5 separate regions of the Homo sapiens genome follow, and all the other regions are linked to region 1. The links come from fine-mapping of genetic effects on gene expression. A gene starts in region 1. Each other region holds a variant in brackets. All regions are shown on one strand. Distances are between the middles of the regions.

What was found. PIP is the estimated chance that this variant, and not a neighbour inherited with it, causes the effect.
Region 2: its variant is fine-mapped to the expression of INO80E in whole blood (TOPMed, PIP 0.98).
Region 3: its variant is fine-mapped to the expression of INO80E in stomach (GTEx, PIP above 0.99). The same link has a PIP of 0.9 or more in esophagus muscle and gastroesophageal junction.
Region 4: its variant is fine-mapped to the expression of INO80E in tibial nerve (GTEx, PIP 0.97).
Region 5: its variant is fine-mapped to the expression of INO80E in whole blood (TOPMed, PIP above 0.99).

What each region holds. Positions count from the first base shown.
Region 1 is chr16:29,993,715-29,998,813 of GRCh38, forward strand. It overlaps INO80E (INO80 complex subunit E), which reads left to right and starts at 2,527. Exons shown (of 7, transcript NM_173618.3): 1 at 2,527-2,677; 2 at 2,833-2,903; 3 at 3,094-3,146. The coding sequence starts at 2,597. It overlaps HIRIP3 (HIRA interacting protein 3), which reads right to left and starts at 1,903. Exons shown (of 7, transcript NM_003609.5): 1 at 1,827-1,903; 2 at 1,629-1,749; 3 at 1,389-1,503; 4 at 192-1,129; 5 at 1-94. The coding sequence starts at 1,891. RefSeq lists enhancers at 1-394, 2,251-2,420, 2,481-2,610.
Region 2 is chr16:29,912,159-29,917,257 of GRCh38, forward strand. The region is part of intron 2 of KCTD13 (potassium channel tetramerization domain containing 13); the gene reads right to left. It also overlaps a transcript of ASPHD1 not described here. Among named protein-coding and RNA genes, the nearest start is that of KCTD13-DT, 12 kb to the right of the region's middle. The variant T/C (reference allele first, on the strand shown) is at 2,992.
Region 3 is chr16:29,969,749-29,974,847 of GRCh38, forward strand. It overlaps TMEM219 (transmembrane protein 219), which reads left to right. Exons shown (of 6, transcript NM_001083613.2): 5 at 1,660-1,830; 6 at 3,202-3,300. The coding sequence ends at 1,797. TAOK2 (TAO kinase 2) reads left to right here and starts at 4,120. Exons shown (of 16, transcript NM_016151.4): 1 at 4,120-4,900. It overlaps LOC124903762, which reads left to right and starts at 3,874. Exons shown (of 2, transcript XM_047435036.1): 1 at 3,874-4,032; 2 at 4,249-4,887. The coding sequence starts at 3,874. The coding sequence ends at 4,887. RefSeq lists a silencer at 3,810-4,179 and enhancers at 4,603-5,099, 5,081-5,099. The variant A/G (reference allele first, on the strand shown) is at 2,865.
Region 4 is chr16:30,078,664-30,083,762 of GRCh38, forward strand. PPP4C (protein phosphatase 4 catalytic subunit) reads left to right here. Exons shown (of 9, transcript NM_002720.3): 3 at 2,596-2,647; 4 at 3,821-3,871; 5 at 4,083-4,184; 6 at 4,731-4,904; 7 at 4,992-5,099. Among named protein-coding and RNA genes, the nearest start is that of PPP4C, 5.2 kb to the left of the region's middle. The variant C/T (reference allele first, on the strand shown) is at 2,773.
Region 5 is chr16:30,096,600-30,101,698 of GRCh38, forward strand. YPEL3-DT (YPEL3 divergent transcript) reads left to right here. Exons shown (of 2, transcript NR_135192.1): 1 at 1-820. Among named protein-coding and RNA genes, the nearest start is that of YPEL3-DT, 2.7 kb to the left of the region's middle. RefSeq lists an enhancer at 1-40 and a silencer at 11-60. The variant TA/T (reference allele first, on the strand shown) is at 2,813.

The DNA of each region.
Region 1 (5,099 bases):
GCTTCTTGTAGTTTCGATGGGCACCACAGGCCCGAATGTAGCGCTTCAGCCTCATCACAGCCGGGTGGTCCTCTCCACGGCGACCTGAGCCAGCCTAGCAAGGAAAGAGCAGCTGAAGGCCAAGCCTGCTGGGCCTGAGGCAGGGTCTCCCTCTTCCCTAATAGTGGCCTCCCACCCCTCCTCACCCTCACCTTCCCTCCTTTGGCCTCTGGACTTCCATCTGAGGAGGAAGAGGAGCTTCGTGTCCTGCCTTTCCTGGAGCTCTTCTTGGAAGAGCGGTTCTTCCTCTCCCCCTGGGGGCCTCCCCCTGCCTCGCTGTCACTTACCTCCCTCTCCAAGTCACTTTCCTCACCACTGGTGCTGCCCAGTCTGGCCATCTTTCTAGAGCCTTTAGCTGTGGGTTCCCCCTTCCCACTGTCTTCCTCGTCCTCGCTGCTTCCACTCAACCTCTTCCCACCCTTAAGCTGGGTCCTGTCCTCACTCTTCCTCTGCACTGGGGGTTCTCTATCTCTCCCACTGTCATCCCCACTGCTGGCTGCCTCTTTCTGCTCTTCCTCGCTGTCTGAGTCTCCCAAGAGCCTCTTTGCCTGGCTTTTCTGCTTACAGCTCCTCTCCTCCCTAGCTGACTTTCTCCGGCCATTGCTCCTGGTTCTGGGTTTCCAATCCCCCTTTTCCTCATCCTCTTCTTTCTCTTCCTCCTCCACTTCCTCCTCTCTCTGCTCTTTCTTCTGGGCTAGGATCTCCTCTTCACTCTCCTGTTCACTTTCCTTCAGGCTTTTAGTTCCTTTATTTCCCTCCACCTTCTTTGCTGTCCTCTGAACGGGTTCTGCCTCGCTCTCCTCACTTTCTTCCCTGGCCTGCTTCCTACTGACTGAGGCCTTGCCTGGTGCCTGCTTCTTTACCACAGGTTTCTTCCTAGTCTTCCCCTTGTACCCCTTTTCCTCCTCCTCACTGCTCTCCTCTCCCCTCTGTGCGGGCAGGTCCCTCTGCCGTTCCTCATCACTGCTCTCCTCAACTGCCTTTGAGGCTCGCCTTGGATTCTCCTCTTTGGCTGGGCTGACTTCTGCTGCCACCCCATTCTTTGCTGGGGGTCCAAAGTAGTCTGGGCTGGAGGCTTCAGAGCCGGACTCTGGAATATGGAGAGGAGAGAGGGTTGAGACAGGCTCCTCCTGTCCCTTCTCCCTTCACTTCGGATAGGTTGCCTCGAGCCCTGCCCTGACAGTTGGAGGGGCAGCAGGAAACAGCTATCTGTACTTGCTGTTCCCGGTTCCTGACTCACTAGCCTTGCTCCCTCATCTAACGCCTGGGGACATAAGAGATGCGCAGTGAATGCTTCTTGAGTGAACCAACGATGCAGAAGGCCCCCACAGCAGGGAGGAAGCACTAACCCGACTCTGAATTGAAGCGGAACCTTTTTCTCTCCGGGTCGCTACAAGGGGTGGGAGGCCTCTTGCCCTTCTTGGTAAGGTCCAGTTTGTCTTCCCTGGAAGCGGCTTCATCCACCTGTGTGTGCGCCAAGAGGGCAAACTATGCACCAAGGCTGCGCTCACCGCGCCCCGTCAGGCCCCTCCTCCTCAGCAGCAAGCCCCGCCTCCGCCTCCCGCGGCCCAGGCTCCGGCCCGGCACACCTGCATCTTCAGCAGCTCCTCCTCCACCAGCCGCTTCAGTGCCTGCTTCTCCTCGGGCTCCAGGTGGCTGCGGCCCGAGTGAGCTAAGTACCTCCGCCGCACGATGGAATGCGTAAGCGTGCTGCAGGGACATGGTGTCAGGACGGAGTCCCGACCCACCCGCGCCCTTTCCAACCCCATCTCCAACCCCCTGGGCACCTGAGGTCCGGGCGGCCTCGGAAGAAGCTACGGGTGAACTCCTGCATCTCCTTCTCCCGCGCCATTTTGCTCAACCCGGGATTGACGGCTCCCGCCTTTTTTTCTTCTCGGCCTCCGTCAGCGCGTTTGACAGCGGCTCGCGCACGCGCAGTGCTGCGGCAACGTGGGGCGAGGGACCGTTGGCCCTTGGCCGCGGACCGCGTGGGCCGAGAACTTTGCCAGACGAGACTTGTTTTCTCTGGGCAGTTGGAGGGTCTCGCGGCTCCTACCCTTTTTTGGAACGGATCATTTTAAAAGTTCTCGTTAGAAACCAATTCGGCGCCGGCACCCTTTGGGTGAAACCTAATCAGCCCGCGACGCTGCCTTTCTCACTGGTCACGGGCAACAGCTAGGCTGCTGTTATTTCGCAAGGCAGAAGAGAAAAGGCATCCTCGCGAGCAGATGAGGAACCTCGGGGATAAATCCTTTTGTGGCTTCAAGTGTCTAAGTACATTAGAGTCAGGAACGGCGCTTTCCAGCGTCCGCCATTTTTGTGGCGTCACCGCGTCGCTGCTACGCCATCCCCAGCGCAGTGGCTGCCGCGCTCCTGTCCCAGTGTCCCCCGGGAGGTCGGCCCGTGCGGTGACGCCCCTGAGCGCGGGGTACGCCGGGAGTTGTAGTCCTGACGGCACAGCCTTGCAGCGTCTCCGGAAGTGGAGGCGGGAGCGGCACGGCAGCCACTGCTTGGGGTAGCGGGAGGGCAGACTCTGGGCGCCACTCCCGGGCCGGTCATGAACGGGCCGGCGGACGGCGAAGTGGACTACAAAAAAAAATACCGGAATCTGAAGCGGAAGCTCAAGTTCCTCATCTACGTGAGTGCTGCCGCGGGAAGGCTGTGGGGGATGAGGCCTGGCGCGGACAAGATCTCAGTTTACCCAGGTGTAAAGTGGGTGGGGCGAGCGGCCGCTGGTTCCGGGGCCCTTCACGGAGGACCGTTGGCCCAGCGCACCCCTTGCCCGTGATACAGGAGCACGAGTGCTTCCAGGAGGAGCTGAGGAAAGCGCAAAGGAAATTACTGAAGGTGTCCCGGGACAAGAGGTGAGGCACGTTGCAGGGGCGGAGGGCGATGTGCTTCCTAGGAAATCTACATTCGGACCCCATCCCCGAGTAGGGCCACAAGTGCATGGGCTCTTTCAAGTATCCGATGGGCCAGCTGGGAGGGACAGGTACCCAGGAGGACATTGCTGCGCTGGAAAATCACTGTCCGTGTCTCCTTCCCTCCCCTCAGTTTCCTCCTAGACCGACTTCTGCAGTACGAGAACGTGGATGAAGACTCTTCGGGTGAGCAAGGTCTTCAAAAATTGGTGGAGAGCATGGTTCCTGGTACTTAGCAAGCTTCCTGGGCCCCCGCCTTTTAGGCAGTGGTGGCTGATGCAGCCCCCAGTGGTCCTTAAGCCTAGTTGCTTGCCTTCCACCTCCACCGTTCTTTCATTCAGGCACTTACTGAGCACCTATTGTGTTTCAGGCACTGTGCTTGGCACAGGGGATACAGCAGAGGCAGAGATAGGCAAAGCCCTTGGCCTCTTGTAATTTATATTCTAGTTGGGAAGAATAAGTAAATGAAGACAATAGACTAGAATTTTAGGTCATAGGAAGGACTTGAAGGTAATGAAAACAGTTATGCGGTAATGATTATAGTAGAACAGGGGTTGATGAATTGTTTCTGCAAAGGGCCAGATGGTAAGTAAGCTTTTTGCAACATACAATCTTTGAAGCACCTACTGAACTCTGCCATTGTAGTAGCAGCCGTACCCCATAGGCAAATACATGAGTATGGCTATGTTTCTATAAAACTTTATAGGCACTGAAATTTGAATTTCATATTTTTCCATATGAAAAATTTTTCTTTAGTTTTTTTTTTTTCCAACCGTTTAAAAGCTTAAAAGCCATTCTTGGCCAGGTGCAGTGGCCCACGCCTGTAATCCCAACACTTTGGGAGGCCGAGGTGGGCGGATCACAAGGTCGGGAGTTCAAGACCAGCCTGACCAACATGGTGAAACCTCGTCTCTACTAAAGATACAAAAATTAGTCGGGTGTGGTGGCGTGCACCTGTAATCCCAGCTACTGGGGAGGCTGAGGCAGGAGAATCATTTGAACCCTGGAGGCAGAGGTTGCAGTGAGCCGAGATCGCTGCCACTGCATTCCAGCCTGGGTGACAGGGCGAGACTCCGTCTCAAAAAAAAAAAAAAACGCCCTTCTTAGCTTGCAGACCACACAAGCAGGCAGCAGGCAACCTCTGAATGGAGTACTCAAGAAAGGCCTTTCACAGAGTGACATTTGAGTTGGGACCAGAGAAGAAACCAGCCTTCCATCCTGGGCAACATAGTGAGACCCCATCTCAATTAAAAAAAAATTAGCCATGTATAGTGGTGTATACATGTGGTCCCAGCTACTTGGGAGGCAGAACCAGGAGGATCCCTTGCCTGAAAGGTCAAGGCTGCAGTGAGCCATGATAGCACCGCTGTGCTCCAGCCTGGGTGACAGAGCAAGACTGTCTCAAAAGAAAGAAACCCCATCCTGGCTAACACAGTGAAACCCTGTCTCTACTAAAAATACAAAAAGTTAGCCGGGGATGTTGGTGGGCACCTGTAGTCCCAGTTACTCGGGAGGCTGAGGCAGAAGAATGGCGTGAACCTGGGAGGTGGAGCTTGCAGTGAGCTGAGATTGCACTACTGCAGTCCAGCCTGGGCAACAGAGCCAGACTCCATCTCAAAAAAAAAAAAAAAACAAAAACCAATCTTGTGAAGAAGTGGGCTAGAGCTGTCCCGGCAGAATAATATAAATGCAGCTACCCTGAGGTAAGAACAGGTCAGGCTTGGTTGAAGAGCAGAGGCATGAAAGAGAGAGAACACTGTTTTCGTCCTTTTATTTGAATATTGTCTGCAGTTAACTATATTTTACATCATAACCAGGGCCCCACATGTTAAACAAAACAAAGTTTAACGAAACATTTTTAAGATCACTGTATCCAATTCATCCTGACACTTTTTAGACTGCTTTTTTCCCCTTCTTTTAATGCTGGTTGCAAACCAATAAATTGATTTCATGACCCACTAATGGCTTGAGACCCACAGTTTGAAAAAGCCCTAAGGTAGGCATTTGTGGGCCTCTTCCTGGGTGAGGCCCTCGTAAGCCATGTCACGTAGAATCACCTCTCTCCGTGGTGCCTTTAAACATTGGTCTGGGCCGGGCACGGTGGCTCACGCTTGTAATCCCAGCACTTTGGGAGGCCGA
Region 2 (5,099 bases), 82 kb before region 1:
GCAGGGCTCTGCAGGCTCCAAGCTCCGCCAGCCTCTCTGCCACTCTCCCTTTGCTTGCTGGGCCTTGGTCCCACGGACACCTTGCTGCTTCACACATCCAGCTTGTGCCTGCCCCGGCCACTGGCTGTGCCCCTGCCCGGGATGCTTCTTTGCTCAGCTGTCAGCGTGGCGTGTCCGTCATGCCATTCAGATCGCAGGTCACACAGTGCCTCCTCAGGGCCAGCCCTCCCCAGCCCCCCTGGCTAAAACAGCCTCCTCTACATCCTGCCTTTTGTGTTATCAGTTTTCTTTTTCTTTTTTTGAGACAGAGTTTCGCTTGTTGCCCAGGCTGGAGTGCAATGGCGCCATCTCGGCTCACTGCAACCTCCACCTCCCGGGTTAAAGCAATTCTCCTGCCTCAGCCTCCTGAGTAGCTGGGATTACAGGCATGTGCCACCACACCCAGCTAATTTTGTATTTTTAGTAGAGACGAGGTTTCTCCATGTTGGTCAGGCTGGTCATGAACTCCCGAACTCAGGTGATCAGCCCGCCTCAGCCTCCCAAAGTGCTGGGATTACAGGCGTGAGCCACTGCACCAGGCCTATCAGTTCATTTTCTACACAGCAGTTAGTGTCTGACTTTTTCTAACTTTTTGTATTTGTTTATGATCTGTCTCTTCCCACCTAGGAATAACTACCTAGTATACAGCTGATGCTCTGTATTTGTTGAATGAATGAACATATTTGTTGAGTGAATGAACTTCATTGGGTGGGATGACGTTGGAGAAAGAAATCTGAAGCAAACCCATGGGCTTCTTTCTCTTCTGTCTTCTAGAATCTTCATGCCAAAATCCCTCTCACTTCTCCCAACCTTGAAAACTCAATGCGCAATTCTAATACAAATTCCAGATTTGTTTTTTGCAGAAACTCATAAGACTCTCTAAAATTAACAGAGAATAATAAAAGTCTACAATTACTGAGGCCATTTTTTTTTTTTTTTTTTTTTTGAGACAGGGTCTTGCTGTCATCCAGGCTGAGTGCAGTGGCATGACCACAGCTTACAGCAGCCTTGACCTCCTGGGCTCAAGCCATCCTCCCAAACTTAGGTCAGTTTTTAAAAATAAGAGCAAAGAGGAAAGGCCGACCCTGCCAGATATTAAGATAGGCTGCAAAGCCACAACAGTGAGAACGGTATCAGTTCGGGCACAGAAACAAAAATACCTGAGAAACACAACAGAGCGATCAGAAACAGACCACTGTGTATATGAGAATTGGTATTTTTAAAAAGACACCACAAATGTGCGAGGGGAATTACGGAGTATGAATTCGTTATCTATCACTGTGTAACAAACTGCCCCCAATTTAGGAGCTTAAATTAACAATATTTATTACTTCTGTTTCTGAGGGTCAGGATCTCAGCAGTGGCTCGGCTGGGTGGCTCCGGCACAGGGTCTCTTCTGAGGCTGTGGCCAAGATGTCAGTGGGGCTGTGGGCATCAAAGGCATGACCGCCCCTAGAGGATGCACTCTGAGAAAGCTTGTTCATGTGGCTGGCAAGTTCGCACTAGCTGCTGGCAGGAAACAACAAATCCCTGCCATGTAGATCTCTCCACAGGGTTGCTTGAGTATCCTCGCAGCATGGCAACTGGCTTCTCCAGAGCAAATAATTCCAGAGAGGGCAAGGTGGAAGCCTCATTGTCTTTTTTATTTTTGAGATGGAGTCTCACTGTGTCGCCCAGGCTGGAGTGCAGTGGCGTAATATCGGCTCACTGCAACCTCCGCCTCCCAGGTTCAAGTGATTTTCCTGCCTCAACCACCCAAGTAGCTGGGATTACCGAGGTGTGCCATCACGCCCAGCTAATTTTTGTATTTTTAGTAGAGACAGGGTTTCACCATGTTGGCCAGGCTGGTCTCAAACTCCCGACCTCAGGTGATCCACTCGCCTCAGCCTCCCAAAGTGCTGGGATTACAGACGTGAGCCACAGCGCCGGGCCCCTCCATTGTCTTTTATGACCTAGGTCTGTTGGTCCTATCCAGTGAGGAAGGAGATGACACACAGGAACGAGCACCAGGGGACGAGAATCATCAGGCTGCCTTGGTGGCTGGCTCCACAGGCCACCGCTGGCTCTCAGTGATTTCCCCCCTCCCACATGCCAAATATACTCACCACCTTCCAGGATCCCCCATCATCCCATTACAGCATCAGCTCAAAGTACAGAATCTCATCATCTCAGTCAGGTCCAGGTGGGGATGTGGCTCTAGCATGCAGTTCCGTAACTATGGCTCCTTAAGTGCATTTCTTTTTTTTTTTTTTTTTTGAAATGGAGTCTTGCTCTGTCTCCCAAGCTGAAGTGCAGAGCCACCACCATCTCACCTCACTGAAAACTCTGCTTCCCAGGTTCAAGTGATTCTCTTGCCTCAGCATCCCAAGTAGCTGGGACTACAGGCATGCACCACCATCCCAGCTAATTTTCTTTAGTAGAGACGGGATTTCACCATGTTGGCCAGGCTCGTCTTTAACTCCTGACCTCAGGTGATCCACTTGCCTTGGCCTCCCAAAGTGTTGGGATTACAGGCGTGAGCCACCGCATCCAGCCCTTAAGTGCATTTCCTATCTGCAGACCTGTGAGCTAAAGAGACAGGTCATCTCCACACTCCCAGTGTGCAGTGGTAGAGGCAGGCACAGGATAACCAGTAAGGACATTCTTGCTCAAAAGCAGGGGAAGCCGGGCGTGGTAGCGTGTGCCTGTCATCCCAGCTACTCAGGAGGCCAAGGTGGGAGGATTACTTGAGCCCAGGAGTTCGAGACCAGCCTGGGCAACATAGCAAGACTCTGTCTCAAAAAAAAAAAAAAGTGGGGCAGGGGACAGGAGGCACATATAAGTCATACATATAAGTCACTGGTGTGTGGAAATTCTGTAATCCAGTTGGAGAAATGCTAGGAACTCTTTGATGCCTACTCCTGTTCATGAATGATTCTCCATGGCTCTCCCTGAGTCGTCCCACCTCTTCCA[T/C]GAAAGATGTTTGCAGCTCCACAGTTTCATCTGCCTGCTTCCTGCCTGTAAAAGTTTGGGTGTGCAAAGCCGTCTTGTCCTTTTGCACTGGCTCTGTCCCTTTCAGTCCAAGCTGGCAGTGTCTCTGCCAATATAATTCTCTTCATAACTTATTGGGTATCTTGCATGTCTTAGGGTTCACTACATTAGAAAAAAGCCACACCTAGAAATCTCTGCAAGTGGCCAGGCACAGTGGCTCACGCCTGTAATCCCAGCACTTTGGGAGGCCGAGGTGGGTGGATCACCTGAGGTCAGGAGTTTGAGACTAGCCTGACCAACATGGTGAAACCCCATCTCTACTAAAAATACAAAAATTAGCTGGGCGTGGTGGTGGGCACCTGTAATCGCAGCTACTCAGGAGGCTGAGACAGGAGAATCACTTGAACCCAGGAGGAGGAGGTTGCAGTGAGCTATCTCAAAAAAAAAAAAAAGAAAAGAAAAAGAAAAAAGAAAATCTCTGCAAGGTAAGCCCTTCTCTACTTTGGGCTTGTGCTGAGACGCTGAAAGACAACACCTTTAACCTTCTCAGAAGCGTGATTATTATTTCATTCGACTGGAAGTCCCCTCTGAGGCATCTTGTTGGTATTTCTGAGGTCTTAACAAAGGACTTTTTCATCACATCCTCAGCTTGACCTTTAGACCACATTTCCCTGTATTTAATGCCTTGTATTTAATCTTTGCACGGAAGCCATTTGTTAATTTTAACATCACTTGTTATCTGGAAAGGCTGGGAATTTTCAAACCCAACAATTTCAGGCTCTTTTTCATTTAAGTGTTTTTTTTCTTTAACTTACTCTCTCCTCTTCAGTTTTACTATAAGCAGCAAGAAGCCAGGTGGCACCTTCAACATTCTGTCTGGAAAGCTCCTTAGCTAGACCATCCGTTCCTTAGGTATATTTCCTACCCTCCACACTAATGCAGGAGACAGTGTTGCTAAACTTTCTGCCGCTACACAAGGATCTCCTTTCCATCAGTTTCCAATAGCATTTTCCTAACTGTTCTTCAAGCCCTTATTGCAGCTGTCTTAAAGGTCACTGGACTCTTATTAACAGACTTTCTCACCTTTTTTCTTTTAATTTTTTTAGAGACAAGGTCTCACTATATTGCTCAGGCTGGTCTCGAACTCCTGAACTCAAGTGATCCTCCCACCTTGGCCTCCAAAAGTTATGGTATTACAAGTGTGAACCACTGTGCCCAGCCAATACTTTTTAACACTCCTTAAGCTTTTACTAACAATCTCCTCAAAGTCCTTCCAGCTTCTTCCCACTTCTCAGTTGTAAAGTTACTTCTACATTTGAGGTTTCTGTTATGGCAGACCCCCATTCCAGAAACCAAAGTCTGTTCTCTGTTACTGGGTAACAAATTACTACAAACTCAGCAGCTTAAAACAACAGTCCAGGTGTGGAGGCTCATGCCTGTAATCTCAGCATTTTGGGAGGCCAAGGCTGGAGGACTGCTTGAGGTCAGGAGTTCGAGACCAGCCTGGCCGACAGAGCAAGACTCTGTCTCTATTTAAAAATAAATAAATAAAAATAAACATTATCTCACATAGTTTCTGTGGGTCAGGAATTTGGGATGGGCTTAGCTGGGTGGCCCTGGCCCAGAATCTGTCATGAAGCTGCAGTCTGGATTTTGGCTAGGGCTGCAGTCATCAGAAGGTTTGCCTGGGCCTAGAAGCTCTGGTTCTGAGACAGGTCACCACTATGGCGGGGAGTCTGTGCTTGCTGTCGGCAGGGGCTTCAGTTCCTCACCAAGTGGACCTCTGCTTAGGGATGCCTGAGTGTCCTCACATAGCATTCACATAGAGTGAGTGATCTCAAAGAGAGGCAGAAGCTGTAATGTCTTTTATGACCTAGCTTCAAAGTCACATGCTGTCATTTCTGCAATGTCCTATTGGTCATACACAAGGGTCTCCTTGGTGAGGATCTGAAAAGGTCTGCCCTATTTGGTGTGGGAGGGGACTGAACAAGAGCCTGGAAACCAGGAGGCAAGAACCCCTGGTGGCTGTCTTGGGTGCTGGCTACCTCTGGACTGTTTAATACCTGGCACTGGGAAAACTACCTCACCCT
Region 3 (5,099 bases), 24 kb before region 1:
AGGCAAGAGAGACCACAGGGATTTGATGGAGAGGCTCTGTGAATGCAGGATAGAGGGCTATGACCTGATGCTGAAGGCCGTGGGGGCCACTGAGGAGTTTTAAGGAGGAGAGAGATGTGCTTCCCTGGTGCTGGGTGGAGAATGGCTGAGTGGAGGAGGGCCATCAGTCAGGAGGCTGCTGCACACTCCACTCTCACATTTGAAAATACCCCATGAGGCACGGTGGCTCACGCCTGTAATCCCAGCACTTTGGGAGGCCAAGGCCGGTGGATCACTTGAGGTCAGGACCAGCCTGGCCAACATGGTGAAACCCCATCTCTACTAAAAATTTAAAAATTAGCTGGATGTTGTGGCGGGCGTCTGTGATCCCAGCTACTCAGGAGGCTGAGGCAGGAGAATCTCTGGAACCTGGGAGGCAGAGGTTGTAGTGAGCTGAGATCATGCCACTGCACTCCAGCCTGGGCAACAGAGTGAGACTCCGTCTCAAATAAAGAAAAAAAGAAAAGACCCCATGAGGAGCACAACCTGGGACTTGGAATCAGAGATCTGGTTTCCAGATCTAGCACTGCTTGCACTTTTTTTTTTTTTTTTTTTGAGATGGAGTCTTGCTCTATCGCCCAGGCGGGAGTGCAGTGGCGCAATCTCAGCTTACTGCAAGCTCCGCCTCCCAGGTTCACGCCATTCTCCTGCCTCAGCCTCCCAAGTAGCTGGGACTACAGGCGCCCGCCACCATGCCCGGCTAAGTTTTTGTATTTTTAGTAGAGATGGGGTTTCACTGTGTTAGCCAGGATGGTCTCAATCTCCTGACCTCGTGATCCACCCACCTCGGCCTCTCAAAGTGCTGGGATTACAGGTGTGAGCCACCGCACCCAGCCACTTATACATCTTTAAACTGTGGATCATAATGAAGTTTCCTATCTCATGGAGTTATGATGGGGTTTCAGGTTGATAATTGGGCAAGAAAGTAGTTTTTAAACCATCAAGACAAATGTTCGAGCCTGGGCAACATGGTGAAACCCCATCTCTACAAAAAAACACACAAAAAATTAGCTGGGCGTGGTGGCACACACCTGTGGTCCCAGCTACTCAGGAGGCTGAGGTGGGAAGATCGCTGGAGCCCAGGAGGCGGAGGTTGCAGTGAGCCGAGATTGCACTACTGCACTCCAGCCTGAGTTACAGAGTGAGACCCTGCCTCAAAAAGAAAAAAAAAAAAAAGGGCCAGGCGCGGTGTTTCACGCCTGTAATCCCAGCACTTTGGGAGGCCGAGGTGGGCGGATCATGAGGTCAGGAGATCAAGACCATCCTGGCTAACACGGTGAAACCCCGTCTCTACTAAAAATACAAAAAATGAGCCAGGCGTGGTGGCGGGCACCTGTAGTCCCAGCTACTTGGGAGGCTGAGGCAGGAGAATGGCGTGAACCCAGGAGGCGGAGCTTGCAGTGAGCTGAGATCGCGCCACTGCACTCTAGCCTGGGCGACAGAGCAAGACTCCATCTCAAAAAAAAAAAAAAAAGACAAATGTCAGCTTATATGAAAATAACATTTTCCCTTCAGTTGCTCCCTAGATGTGGAGAGCCCTCTCCCTCATGGAGGCTCCTTCTATAGCCCTTGGACTGGATTAACATGTCCTCCTCCTCCTCTCCCTGTACCCCTCCCTAGGAGGAGCTGGCTCTGTGTGGCTCCAGGCTGCTGGTCTTGGGCTCCTTCCTGCTTCTCTTCTGTGGCCTTCTCTGCTGTGTCACTGCTATGTGCTTCCACCCGCGCCGGGAGTCCCACTGGTCTAGAACCCGGCTCTGAGGGCACTGGCCTAGTTCCCGACTTGTTTCTCAGGTGAGGTTCTTTGCTCCAGTCCTGCGGGAGCAGGGAATGGGGTGGGGGTGGGGGTTGTAACCGGGGTAGAGCAGATCCTTGGACTTTTCCTCAAAGACTGCTGCTTCTGAGTCCCCGAGAACCTCTTCAACCACAGCTCTCCCTTAGGGACTGGGAACAATTTGACACCGTCAGCATTCAATATTTTTCTAATTACTTTAACTTTTTTATTATAAAATAGTTAACACTTATGTAGAAAAGTCCAATAGTATAAAAGGACAGCTTGGCAAATTATTATAAAGTGGATACTTATAAATACCACTGAGTAGAATATTACCAGCTGTCCAGAAACCCCCCATGGTCCCTTCCTTCCTGACAATGCCCTCTCTCTCCCTAGAAATTACTGTCCTGCTTTATAATGTATTGCCATGTATGTATTCCTAAATAATATAGTTTGGTTTTACTTATTTTTGAAACTATGTAGACAGAATCATACACATTCTTTTGTGGCTGACTTCTTTCAAGCAACATTGTGATTTTAAGACTCATAACTAGTTCACATCCAAGCATTTGGGTAACAATGGTGAGTTAAGAGGGTTCACATTTGATGATTTGTCCTGAATATGAACCATGTTTGTCTTGCTTTTGTCCTGAAATTCCAATACCCAGTTTTATGATGGAAATTTTGTAAAATTCAACTTGAACCGCTCAGAAGAGTCTAACTGATGATACTCATTTACTGGGGACATAGTATGTGCCCAAGAACTTGACATGCACCTTCTGTCTTCCATTTAGTCATCGTTACCTTTAGAAAAAGCTGATTCCGTTAACAAGATCTTTGGAGGGAATCAGCTTCACAAACGTAGCAGTGGGTGGGGGTCATGTTGGTTAACCAGTTCACACATCAGCTCACTAAAGGAAAAAATATTTCTGCAAAAAATCTTCACTTGTCAGAGGGGGGTGCATGAAATTTGAGAGCCATGTGTTATGCATCCAGCTCTTGAACTGGTCTCAGCTTCAGCTGGCTGCAGTGCCCTAGGAAGTTACTATGGGAA[A/G]AGTGGAAATAGTTGAGGCCCAGGGAACTGATCAGGCCAGAGGAAGTGGAAGCTCAAGATCAACTGTGCTTATTTTGCTGATGGCTGGGCCTAAATGCCCCAACCACCTACTTGGGACAGGAAATGACAGGACCCTCTCAACCTTGGACTGGGAAAGGAGGGCTTCCTGGCCCCTGACAGACCCTGGGGTCCTGAGGCTACCTTAGTTGGGATTAAATGCCCGTATTGGTCTCTAGCTGTCACTCCCTCTGCTCCTTCCTCAATTTCTGCACACATCTCAGAGCTTCCTCTAGCAGCTCTTCGACCTGTTTTGTTGTTTTATTTTCTTTCTCCCCAGGTGTGAATCAACTTCTTGGGCCTTGGCTCTGAGTTGGAAAAGGTTTTAGAAAAAGTGAAGAGCTGGAATGTGGGGGAAAATAAAAAGCTTTTTTGCCCAGTGGCGTGTATGGTGTTTATTGGGGGTTGGATTGAGGTGGGGATTTTAGGGTAGGCAGGCTTAGAAGTTTTGGGGGACTCTTTCCTGTTGACTCTCTAGTTTGGACACAGGTTGGCATAGGGCATAGGTTACTTGAGCTCTCCCCATGGTTGACTTGGCTTTGGTAAACACCTGTCTTGTTTTCTTCTACGAAATAAAATGGATAATTACAGTTAGTTGGGCGGGTGGGGTGTCAGGTCATGGAAATGCTGTGACATAAATGCACTGTGACCTTGGCAAGTCTTGCAACCTGCAGCGCCTCAATTTCCGTAAGAGATTTGACCGATTGAGTTTTCCCAGCGTCGACGCGCAAAGATTCCTCGCACTTGGAGGCCCTTTTCCAGGTTAGATGGTTGCTAACCTCGGAGCAGTCTATTTTCCCGCCTTTTCCGCGCCCAGCAGCAGCTTCCTTTGCCCCTCCCAACTTCCACCCTGCGCGCAGTCGCAGATCGCCGCTGCTGTCCGTCCACCCGCGCCCCCTCAAAGCTTCCCCTAGCAACAAGCTCGGGCTCAGAGCGAAGGCGGGGCGAGCGCATGCGCTGCAGCTCTGTCCACCGCCAGTCGTGGGACAGAGTGCCGGGCTCCTCCCCTTGCAAGTCTAGCTCTTCTCCCCGCCTCCTCCGGCCTGGGGTCCGCGTGGCGGGGCGGGCGCGCACTCGGGCTTGGCGGCTGCCGGTCTCCCAGGCCGCGGCAGTGAGGAGAGAGGGCGGGGCTGAGTCCTCTGCGCCCCCGCCCCCTTTAGCCCGGCGTCCCTACCGCGCCTGCGCGCTCCCGCCCGGTCTCCATCTTGGAATTGGGAGGAAGAGGGAGAGGGAGACCGGGACGAGACCGGGGCTGTGGTGCGGAGAGAGGCTGAGACGGAGAAGAGGAGAGGCAGAGAGGGCGCGGGGACCGTCAGCAGCACCTTAGCTACAATCGTTCAGCTATTCTCGGAAGAGAGAAGGGAGAGGGAGGAGGCCGGGGCGGGAGTGGGGGCTGTCACCCTCGGACCCCGGCGTGAGAGGGGCCGTGCGGCCGGACGTCCTCGGGGTGGGCCCCCAGTCGGTGGCCGAAGACCTACAGCTCAGGCCCCTGGGTCCCAAATTTCCAGGCTTTGCCCCTCCTCCTTTCTCAGATACCCGGGTAACAGTCCTCATAGTCCAGATATCCGGGACTCGGGTCCCAACCTCTCTAAACCTGGGTCTCTGTTTCATAGAATTTCAAATATCAGGTTCAGGCCCCTGCGTGCACCAGTATCCGGGGTTCATTCCCCGGGCGTTCAAATATCGGATTCAGTCTCCATCCCGTTCAGATATTCGGGGTTCAGACCCCACAATCAGAAATCCGGAATTCGGCAGCTGTCGCCCTCGACGAGGGGGAGGACTGGACCGCGAGGTCAGATTAGGTTGTCACCCCCTCCCCTCCAGGGGAGGCTTCCCGGGCCCGCCCCTCAGGAAGGGCGAAAGCCGAGGAAGAGGTGGCAAGGGGAAAGGTCTCCTTGCCCCTCTCCCTGCTTGGCAGAGCCGCTGGAGGACCCCAGGCGGAAGCGGAGGCGCTGGGGCACCATAGTGACCCCTACCAGGTGAGACACGGGGTGCAGGGGCGCGGGTCCCTGTGTCTAGTTCTGAGAAGAAAGGGTGCGCCTTTCTGAGAAGCTGGACTTGGGTAGGCCCTCTCAGGATGGGGAAGCCCAGCTGAGCGAGTGGTCAGCCTCTGGCTAGCCTTGCCTTCTGTTGCCACCCCCTTCCCCTTCCTCTTCCCTTCATTGTGTCTGGTTGGTG
Region 4 (5,099 bases), 85 kb after region 1:
CAGTGGAAGCACAGAGGTCCGCAGTGTCTGAGCTGAAATTGCTGCTACTAGAAATATTAGCACAGTAGGAGAGCTGAGCTTTTGAATCAGGTGGTCTTCAGTATGAATCTTTGCCTTGTCACCTAGAAGCAATATGACCCTCGTCAAGTCACTTTCTGATTTTTTGAAGTGATAATGACATGCAGTTGAGAGTCCGGGTATCCGGGCACAGGGCCTGCTGCGCTGGTAGCCGTTACTGCAGGCAGGTCCTGATAGGGCTGGGGAAGTGCTGCAAGTGGCAGAACTGGGGCTGGAATCTGGGCCTGATTCCCAGGCCACACTGGGGTTGCGCTGGCACTGAGGGGGGCTTTGCAGAGAGCACGGGCCCTGCATGTGACCTCCCTGGGCTTCAGGTTTTCACTCAGGGTCTGTGGAAGGGGCTGGCATAAATTCTCAGGAAATTGGGCTTCTGGGTTCCAATTTAGCCACTCTCCAGCTTGGTGACCTTGACCCTCCCGCTTTTCTGTAAGCTTTGGTTTCTTTTTTTCTTTTTTTTTTTTTTTGAGACAGAGTTTTGCTGTTGTTGCCCAGGCTGGAGTGCCAGTGGCCTGATCTTGGCTCACTGCAACCTCCACCTCCTAGGTTCAAGTGATTCTCCTACCTCAGCCTCCCAAGTAGCTGGGATTACAGGCACGCGCCACCATGCCCAGCTAATTTTTGTATATTTACTAGAGACGGGGTTTCACCATGTTGGCCAGGATGGTCTCAATCTCTTGACCTCATGATCTGCCTGCCTTGGCTTCCCAAAGTGCTGGGATTACAGGCATGAGCCACCGCGCCCGGCCTAGCTTCGGTTTCTTTACTGTTACGTGAGGCTGAAGAGAACCTCCCCAGTCTGTTGGAAAGGTCACTATGAGCAGTTGATGGGGAAGGATGTTCAGCACAAGAAGCAGTGCAGGTGGGAGAGTCCGGGTACTGATGTGGCCTCTTGGACCACCGCCAGTGCTGCCTTCTGTTCCCAGAAAGCCAGGGCAGACCTCCTTCGTGCTGCCTCTGCCATACAGAGCAAGGGGCATAAGTGAATCCTCCTGTCCACTGAGCTCAGGAAACTCATTCTAAGGGAAGAGATTGGCAGAAAGAGGGGGGCCAGGCGAGTTGGGCCTCCCACATCAGAATATCTTGATAAAGAGTCAGACCCCAGAGCCAGGCTTCCCTGGTTCATATCCCACCTGTGTCACTGGCACCAAGCCAGCCTCCTTCCCTGCTTCAATTTCTTCATCTGTGTACCGGGAATCATCATAGTACCTGCCTGCCAAGCTCTTAATAACATTTGTGGCACACAGTATGAGCTCGAATGTTCACTGCTGCTATTACCAGGCAAAATTTGGAAATACAGTGTTGCTTAAATTGGGTATCTATAGGCTGGGTGCAGTGGCTCACATCTGTAATCCCAGCACTTTGGGAGGCAAAGGTGGGTAGATCACTTGAGGTCAGGAGTTCGAGACCAGCCTGGGCAACATAGTGAAATCTCGACTCTACTAAAAATACAAAAATTAGCTGGGCGTGGTGGTACATGCTTCTAATCCCAGCTACTCGGGAGGTTGAGGCAGGAGAATCACTTGACCCAGGAAGCAGAGGTTTGCAGTGAGCAAAGATGGCGCCACTGCACTCCAGACTGGGCAATGGAGCCAGACTCTGTCTCAAAAAAAAAAAAAAAAAAAAAAAATTGGGTGTCTTACCTGGCAAAGTGATTTCATCTCCTGCTCACTCAAGTAGAAGTAGACTGCACTGCAAGGAGAAATAAAAAATATTTAAGTCCTCATAGTCATAAAGAAATACTGAACACATGGCAAGAGCACCTCACTTTTTTTTTTTTTTTTTTGAGATGAAGTCTTGCTCTGTCGCCCAGGCTGGAGTGCAGTGGCGCGATCTTAGCTCACTGCAGCCCCCACCTCCCAGGTTCAAGCGATTCTCCTGCCTCAGCCTCCCAAGTAGCTGGGATTACAGGCACGCGCCACCACGCCTGGCTAATTTTTGTATATTTAGTAGAGACAGGGTTTCACCATGTTAGTCAGGCTGGTCTCAAACTCCTGACCTCGTGATCTGCCCACCCTGGCATCCCAAAGTGCTGGGATTACAGGCATGAGCCACCGCACCTGGCCAAGAGCGCATCACTTTGAAGGCGCATCCACTGTGGGCCTGCCCTGGGCACCTACCCTTGTGTCTGGATAGCCTGGGAGAAGGGCTCTGTGATTGGCCAAGGGTGACTTAAGCTCTGCTGTGGAGAGGATGGGGAGACCCGCCTCCCAGGAGTGAGTCCTGGATGCGGAAGAGGGAGCGGCAGGGGGAGTCAGGGCTGGAAAAGTCCCAGCCTGCTCAGAAGGCCTGGAACGCTGGGATAAGAGGTTGGACTTTGTCCTTTTGGCAGCAGGGGGCCACGGAAGGGTGTTGCATGCTGAAGGGCCGTGGTCAGCCTGTTTTGGGGAGACTGTACGCTTCACTCCTGCCCCCTGGAGCTTCCAGGACTGCCTCATATCCTCCCCTCCCCCCAAAAAAGGTCAGGAATTGGGCTGGGCTGGCCTGGCTGTGGTGACCCTGGTCTTCTCCTGTCTCCAGAGAGATCTTGGTAGAGGAGAGCAACGTGCAGAGGGTGGACTCGCCAGTCACAGTGAGTACCTGCTGTCCCTGCAGAGCCAGGCCTGGTCTTTCAGGCACATGAAGTTTCCTCTTCATCTTGGGGGCTCTATAAGCCCAACCCTAAGCTCTTTTATCTGTCCTTTCCCTCACCTTCAA[C/T]GGAGCACTGCTAAAAGAAGTGGGGGTTGCTGTGCACGTTGGCTCACACCTGTGATCCCAGCATTTTGGGAGGGCAAGGTGGGCACATCACTTGAGGTTAGGAGTTCGAGACCAGCCTGGCCAACATGGTGAAACCGTTTCTACTAAAAATACAAAAATTAGCCACGCGTGGTGGCACGTGCCTGTAATCCCAGCTACTTGGGAGGCTGAGGCAGGAGAATCGCTTGAACCCCAGAGTTGGAGATTGCAGTGAGCTGAGATCAGGCCACTGCACTCCAGCCTGGGTGACAGAGGGAGACTCCGTCTCAAAAAAAAACAAAAAAAAACAAAAAAAACAGGCCGGGCGCGGCGGCTCACGCCTGTAATCCCAGCACTTTGGGAGGCCGAGGCAGGTGGATCATGAGGTCAGGAGATCGAGACCATCCTGGCTAACATGGTGAAACCCCATCTCTACTAAAAATACAAAAAAATTAGCCAGGTGTGGTGGTGGACACCTGTAGTCCCAGCTACTCGGGAGGCTGAGGCAGGAGAATGACGTGAACCCAGGAGGCGGAGCTTGCAGTGAGCCGAGATCGCGCCACCGCACTCCAGGCTAGGCGACAGAGTGAGACTCCGTCTAAAAAAAAAAAAAAGAAAGGAAAGAAAAGAAAGGGGTTATGGGAAGGGACTTTGGATTTGTTAGTGGAGATTCTTGGCCAGGGCAGAAGGACTCCTATTTGGCGAGTGATTCTGCTCACATATCTCCAGGGCTCTGTGTTAGTAACTTGATTCTGGGTACTTTGTGGGGAGTAGAGAGAGGAAGGGGCCGGGACATCTACCTGGAAGGACTTAGTTCTAGCTCTTGCCTACAGAATAGTTGGTACTCAGCATAGGACAGTGGGTATGGTTCCAGACCAGACTGACTTGGGGTGGGAGAGGAGAATTTTGGTCCTAGGAAGTAGAAGTGCAGCCAAGAGTGATAAAGCTCACTAAAGCAGCGGGTGTTTGGAGGGTAGTCCCTGGCAACTCCCACTGCTTGAGTTCCAACCCCACTCTTCCTGTTCCCCAGGTGTGCGGCGACATCCATGGACAATTCTATGACCTCAAAGAGCTGTTCAGAGTAAGAGTGTGGCCAACACTGTGAAATGTAACGGGGGGATGACTGGAAGACCCCTGTAATTGAGGGTGGGAGCCTTAATTTGGGGCGTGGAGTGGGGGCAAGGGGCCCCAAGTTAGATGGGTGGTTGTGGAAGAAGGGCCTCCGCTGGACAGAAACAGGTAGGGGGTAGGGGACTGTTTACGACAGGGCAAAACTTTCTACTTCCCCACAGGTAGGTGGCGACGTCCCTGAGACCAACTACCTCTTCATGGGGGACTTTGTGGACCGTGGCTTCTATAGCGTCGAAACGTTCCTCCTGCTGCTGGCACTTAAGGTGGCAGTCCCCGGCTTCTGCACCCCCAACCTGGGCGACCTCGGGCCGGGCCTGTCTTAGTCCGTTCCGCCCTCATCTCCTATCGTGACCAGCCCCACCTTGGAGCTGTGTCACTGGTGATGGACCGATTCTGCTTTTGGGGGTGGTCAGAGACTTGATGGGGGTTGAGGCCAGCGGGGCAGCATTCTGGGAGGGGCAGAGGCTCACTGTTGCGAATGTGGCAGGTCATTGATGCCACTGGTGGGAGAGGCAGTGTGGGGCCAGATGACAAAGGGCCTGGGTGCCTTGCTAGGGACCCGGTCTGTGTCTGGTAGGTGAAAGAAGAGCCATTAGGTTCATAGTTGAGGGAATGGGTCAGCTTTACATTCTCTGGAGGGGTCGTGTGGGCCTGGGAGGTGGCTGATGCCACACGATTCAGGCAAGAGGTGCCAGGAGTGTGCTGGGCAGTGGTTGTGAGGATGGCAGGCTGGCGGGCACGAGGAGGTCAGAGAGGGATGTGTGGAGAGACCGTCTAGGCGCCAGCCCTGGCTTGGTGGCCACCCCCAGGTTCGCTATCCTGATCGCATCACACTGATCCGGGGCAACCATGAGAGTCGCCAGATCACGCAGGTCTATGGCTTCTACGATGAGTGCCTGCGCAAGTACGGCTCGGTGACTGTGTGGCGCTACTGCACTGAGATCTTTGACTACCTCAGCCTGTCAGCCATCATCGATGGCAAGGTAAGCCAGCCCAGGGCTCCATGGGACAGGGAGAGGAGGGGGGCTTCAGGCCTCAGCCCCGTCCTCTTTCCCTGCTCTCCCCTGTAGATCTTCTGCGTGCACGGGGGCCTCTCCCCCTCCATCCAGACCCTGGATCAGATTCGGACAATCGACCGAAAGCAAGAGGTGCCTCATGATGGGCCCATGTGTGACCTC
Region 5 (5,099 bases), 100 kb after region 1:
GTTGGCTCCACTGTACCGGGGGCTGAGGCCCAGGGAGGTCTCGCGGCTCCCTAGGTTATCCAGCTAGTAAGAGGCGAAGCTGGAATTCTCACTGTGGGCCCATTCCATGGCTTTTGCCAGAGCGCCAGGGACACACTCAGTTCACCTTCTAGCAGGGAAGACCCAAAGATGCGCGCCCCTGGCAGCCAGGGCGTCGGACCAGGCAATTCCTACTGTCCAGCATCACCTCCTCCAGGCCTCTCGGATGCCTCTGTTGGGACAGCTAAGTTCCTCTTCAAAGACTCAATTTCCTGGTCATAAGCTGTAAACAGATTCTACTCCCGCTTTTTCTTCTTTGTCGCACGTCTACCCTATTTGGGAAAGTTTAAACCTTAGCCAATCGGGATCAGCTCAGATTGTGCGGTCCAACCCCCCAGCCAATGGGGAAAGGACACAGAAACAGGAACTGCGTTAGGGTTAAAAACCACTTCCCTCCTTTGTTGGCGGGTGCTCTTGGGATTGCAACCAGCGCAAGCAGCACCCTTCTGCAGAAGTAAAGATGCCTTGCTGGGAAGTCTTCTGTCTCAGTGCTGGTTTTTCTTGACTACACTGAGCACTTGTTTTCAACAAATTTGAGGGTCTTCTGGGATCCCATTCTCCTTTGGGAGGGGTAGCGATTACTTTTCCTCGTGAGACACGTCCCACTGCCTTGTTGCAGTGGCCCAAGGAGCGGAGGATCGGGTCCACCCAAAGTGAGGAATAAATCCGGACTTTCAGCAACGTGGGCAGGAAGGAGCCTTAAAATTCCCAGGCAAGTGGGTAACTCTGTGCACAGACCAAGGTAAGAAAAGTTGCTACTGGGGCGACAAAGTATTTCCTTGGTGGTTGGGGTCACTTGGAGGTTGAAAGTGCATGGCTGAGACATGTCAGTGGACACGAATCGAGTGTGGAGTCCAGACTTGGTTCCATGGTCACCTCATAAGGCTTAGGGCGGTTTTCCAGTCGGGGATTATACCGACCCGCTAATGCTAAGAGGGGCCTGAAATTCCCACGAGGGAAGCGGCCAAAAAGTACGAAGCGATTATTCATATGAGTGCAAGAAACCTCCAATGGGAAAAGGGAGAGGTTAAGCCCCTAGGAAATGGGCACCAACCTCCAGAATGGGAAATACCCCAAGTAAGACAGGGAGTACAAAAGGCCAAGCAGACAATAAAATTCCCCCTGACAGTCCTCTGGGCCTTATGTTAGAGTACTGGAGGTATAATGAAAGAACCATGTAACACAAGGAAAGACAGTGAATGATAAAATATTGCTGTTTTATTTGGACCAAAGAACCTATCCTCAGACCCTCAGTCTTTTGGCCAAAGTTTGGATCAGACGAGGATTGGATATGCCAACTCTTAATCCAGTATGTTAATAAAAAAAGTCCAGTCTCTCAAGAGGAAATAGATTATGCTCTGTGTTGGAGACAGGAACATGTCCTTCCCTTTCCCTTAAAGGATGACGTAAAAGAGAAACCAAACTCAGTACCCTCCTAGGACAACCCAGTTAAGTCAGATTCTACATCTAAAGATGCCAATGTATAGGATCCCCTAGACCATCTTCCCCCGCCTACCCCACCTCAGGCTAATCACTCAGTCCCTCCCCCACATAACCCTGCCCTGTGGGCCTTGTGGCCCCACATCCCCATTGAGCAGCCACCCGAACATGTCCTTTCCTCAGGAAAACTCCAGCACGAGATGGAACAATGCCGGAGGGATATTCAGAACTTTCCTTTTCCCTCTTCCTCAAAGGGGTCTGCCCCAACCCCTTTTCCCTTAAGTACCACTGGGAGGAGGGGGTATTGGTTTCGTAAATGCCCCCTTAACTAGTTCAGAGGTTAGAAATCTGAAAAAGGAACTCAAACCATTATCAGATGATCCTTTTGGAGTCACAGATCAAATTGAACAATTTTTAGGGCCGCAATTGTATACTTGGGCTGAATTAATGTCCATCTTAGGTATTCTCTTCTCAGGGGAGGAAAGAACCATGATCCGCAGGGCTGCTATGATAGTCTGGGAATGTGAACACCCTCTTGGTCAAAACATCCCTGCAGCAGAGCAGAAATTCCCAGCCCAGGACCCTCAGTGGAATAGGAACAATGCAGCCCACTGAGAAAACATGAAAGACCTCAGGGATATGATAATTAAAGGGATTCAGGAATTGGTGCCTCAAACCCAAAATATTTCTCGAGCATTTAATGTACACCAAGAAAAAGATGAAGGGCCCATGGAATTTTTAAAGACACTTAAGGAGCAAATAAGAAAATATTCAGGCTTAGACATAGAGGACCCACTTGGACAAGGGATGTTAAAGCTCTATTTTATCACCAACAGTCGGCCGGACATTAGAAAGAAATTACAAAAGATAGAAAATTGGCAAGACTGCTCCATAGAGGAACTTTTAATTAAGAGAGGCTCAAAGGCCGGGCATGGTGGCTCAAGCCTGTAATCCCAGCACTTTGGGAGGCCGAGGTGGGTGGATCATGAGGTCAGGAGATCGAGACCATCCTGGCTAACACGGTGAAATCCTGTTTCTACTAAAAAAATACAAAAAATTAGCCGGGCGTGGTGGCGGGCGCCTGTAGTGCCAGCTGCTCAGGAGGCTTAGGCAGGAAAATGGTGTGAACCTGGCAGGTGGAGCTTGCAGTGAGCTGAGATCACGCCATTGCACTCCAGCCTGAGAGACAGAGCAAGACTCCGTCTCAAAAAAAAAAAAAAAAAAGAAAGAAAGTGATTAACTCTGATTTGGGTTCCACCGTCAGATTTATTTATTGATTTATTGATTTATTTAT[TA/T]AAAAAAAATTCCCAGGGAAGTGGTCAGGAGAAAACGATACCCTATTCCCTTAGAAGCTAGAATGGCTCTAAAACCTATAATTGAGGGCCTCGTCCATGACGGACCCCTTGAACCCTGTATGTCCCCTTATAACACTCCAATATTGCCTGTAAGAAAGTCAGATGGGTCATACCGGCTAGTAGAAGACCTCTGGGCTGTTAATCAAACAGCTCAAACTACCCACCCTGTTGTTCCCAACCCTTACACTATTATCAGCAAAATCCCATATGATCACCAGTGGTTCACAATGATAGATTTGAAAGATGCCAGCTGGGCACGGTGGCTCACACCTGTAATCCTAGCACTTTGGGAGGCTGAGGCGGGCAGACTGCCCGAACTCAGGAGTTTGCAACCAGCCTGGGCAACACGGTGAAACCCCGTCTCTACTAAAATACACACACACACACACACACACACACACACACACACACACACGCCAGGCATGGCAGCATGTGCCTATAATCCCAGCTACTCAGGAGGCTGAGGCAGGAGAGTTGCTTGAACCCAGGAGGCTGAGGTTGCAGTTAGCCGAGATCGTGCCACTGCACTCCAGCCTGGCAACAGAGCCAGGCTCTGTCTCAAAAAATAAATAAAATAAAAAATAAAAAAAGAAAGATGGCTTTTGGGCTTGCCCTTTAGCGGAAGACAGCCGGGACATGTTTGCTTTTGAGTGGGAGGACCCTCACTTAGGTCGAAAACAGCAGTACCAGTGGACAGTCCTACCCCAGGGGTTTACAGACTCCCCAAATCTATTCGGTCAAATTTTAGAACAAGTCCTAGAAAACTTTTCCCTTCCTTCATCCATATGCCTACTCGAATAGGCAGATGACCTGTTCATTTCAGGAAATAGCAAGGACCACATAACCACAGTTTCAATTAACTTCCTGAATTTCCTAAGGGAACAAGGGTTACGGGTCTCAAGGAGTAAAATTCAGTTTGTAGAACCTGAGGTAAAATATCTAGGACACCTAATCAGTAAAGGCAAACGGAAAATAGTACCTGAACGAATTGAAGGTGTCACATCTCTACCTTTGCCTGAAACAAAGCAGGAACTTAGAAAATTCTTGGGATTAGTTGGATACTGTCGTCTATGGATTGACTCTTATGCCTGAAAAACAAAATCTCTACATAAAAAACTCACCCAAGAAGGACCAGACCCCCTTCTTTGGACCCTATCAGAAGTCCAACAAGTAGAAGAGTTAAAACACCTACTTGTAACTGCCCCCGTTATAGCTTTGCCCTCCTTAGCCATTCCACCTTTTCATCAGTGTAAACAAGGGGTTGGCTTTAGGGGTACTCACCCAAAGACACAGAGGCCACTGGCAGCCCATAGCCTTCCTGTCAAAAGTTCTTGACCCAGTAACCCACCGATGGCCCGAATGTGCCCAGTCTGTAGCAGCAACTGCTTTGCTAATGGAACGAAGCAGGAAAATAACCTTTGGGGGAAGCCTCATTGTATGTACCCTTCATCACGTTAGAACCATTCTTAATCAGAAGGCAGGAAGATAGCTCACTGACTCAAGGATTTTAAAATGTGAGGCTATCGGGTGGGTGTGGTGGCTCACGCCTGTAATTCCAGCACTTTGGGAGGCTGAGGTGGGCAGATCACAAGGTCAGGAGTTTGAGACCAGAGTGCCCAGCATGGTGAAACCCCCTCTCTACTAAAAATACAAAAAATTAGCCAGGCATGGTGGCGCACGCCTGTAATCCCAGCTACTTGGGAGGCTGACGCAGGAGAATTGCTTGAACCCCGGAGGCGGAGGTTGCACTGAGCCGAGATCAGCCACTGCACTTCAGCCTGGGCAACAGAACGAGACTCCATCCTCCACCCACCCCCCAAAAAAATTGAGGCTATCTTATTAGAGAGGGATGATTTAACATTGACCACTGGTAGTTCGCTCAACTCCGATGTTTTCCTAACAGGAAATCCGAACCGGGAGGAACCTGAGCATAAATGTTTAGATCTGATCAGTTATCAGACTAGAGTCAGACTGCATCTAAGCAAGACCCTGTTCCAAACTGGGCATTACCTCTTTATAGACGGCTCCTCTCGGGTAATTGAAGGAAGGAGGCATAACGGGTGCTCTGTAGTTGACAGGGAAACCCTCATGGAGGTAGAGTCAGGGAGACGGCCCAATAACTGGTTCACTCAAACATGTGAACTCTTTGCATTAAATCAGGCCTTAAAATCTCTGCAAAATCAGGAAGGAACTATTTACACTGACTCCAAGTATTTTGGAGTAGTC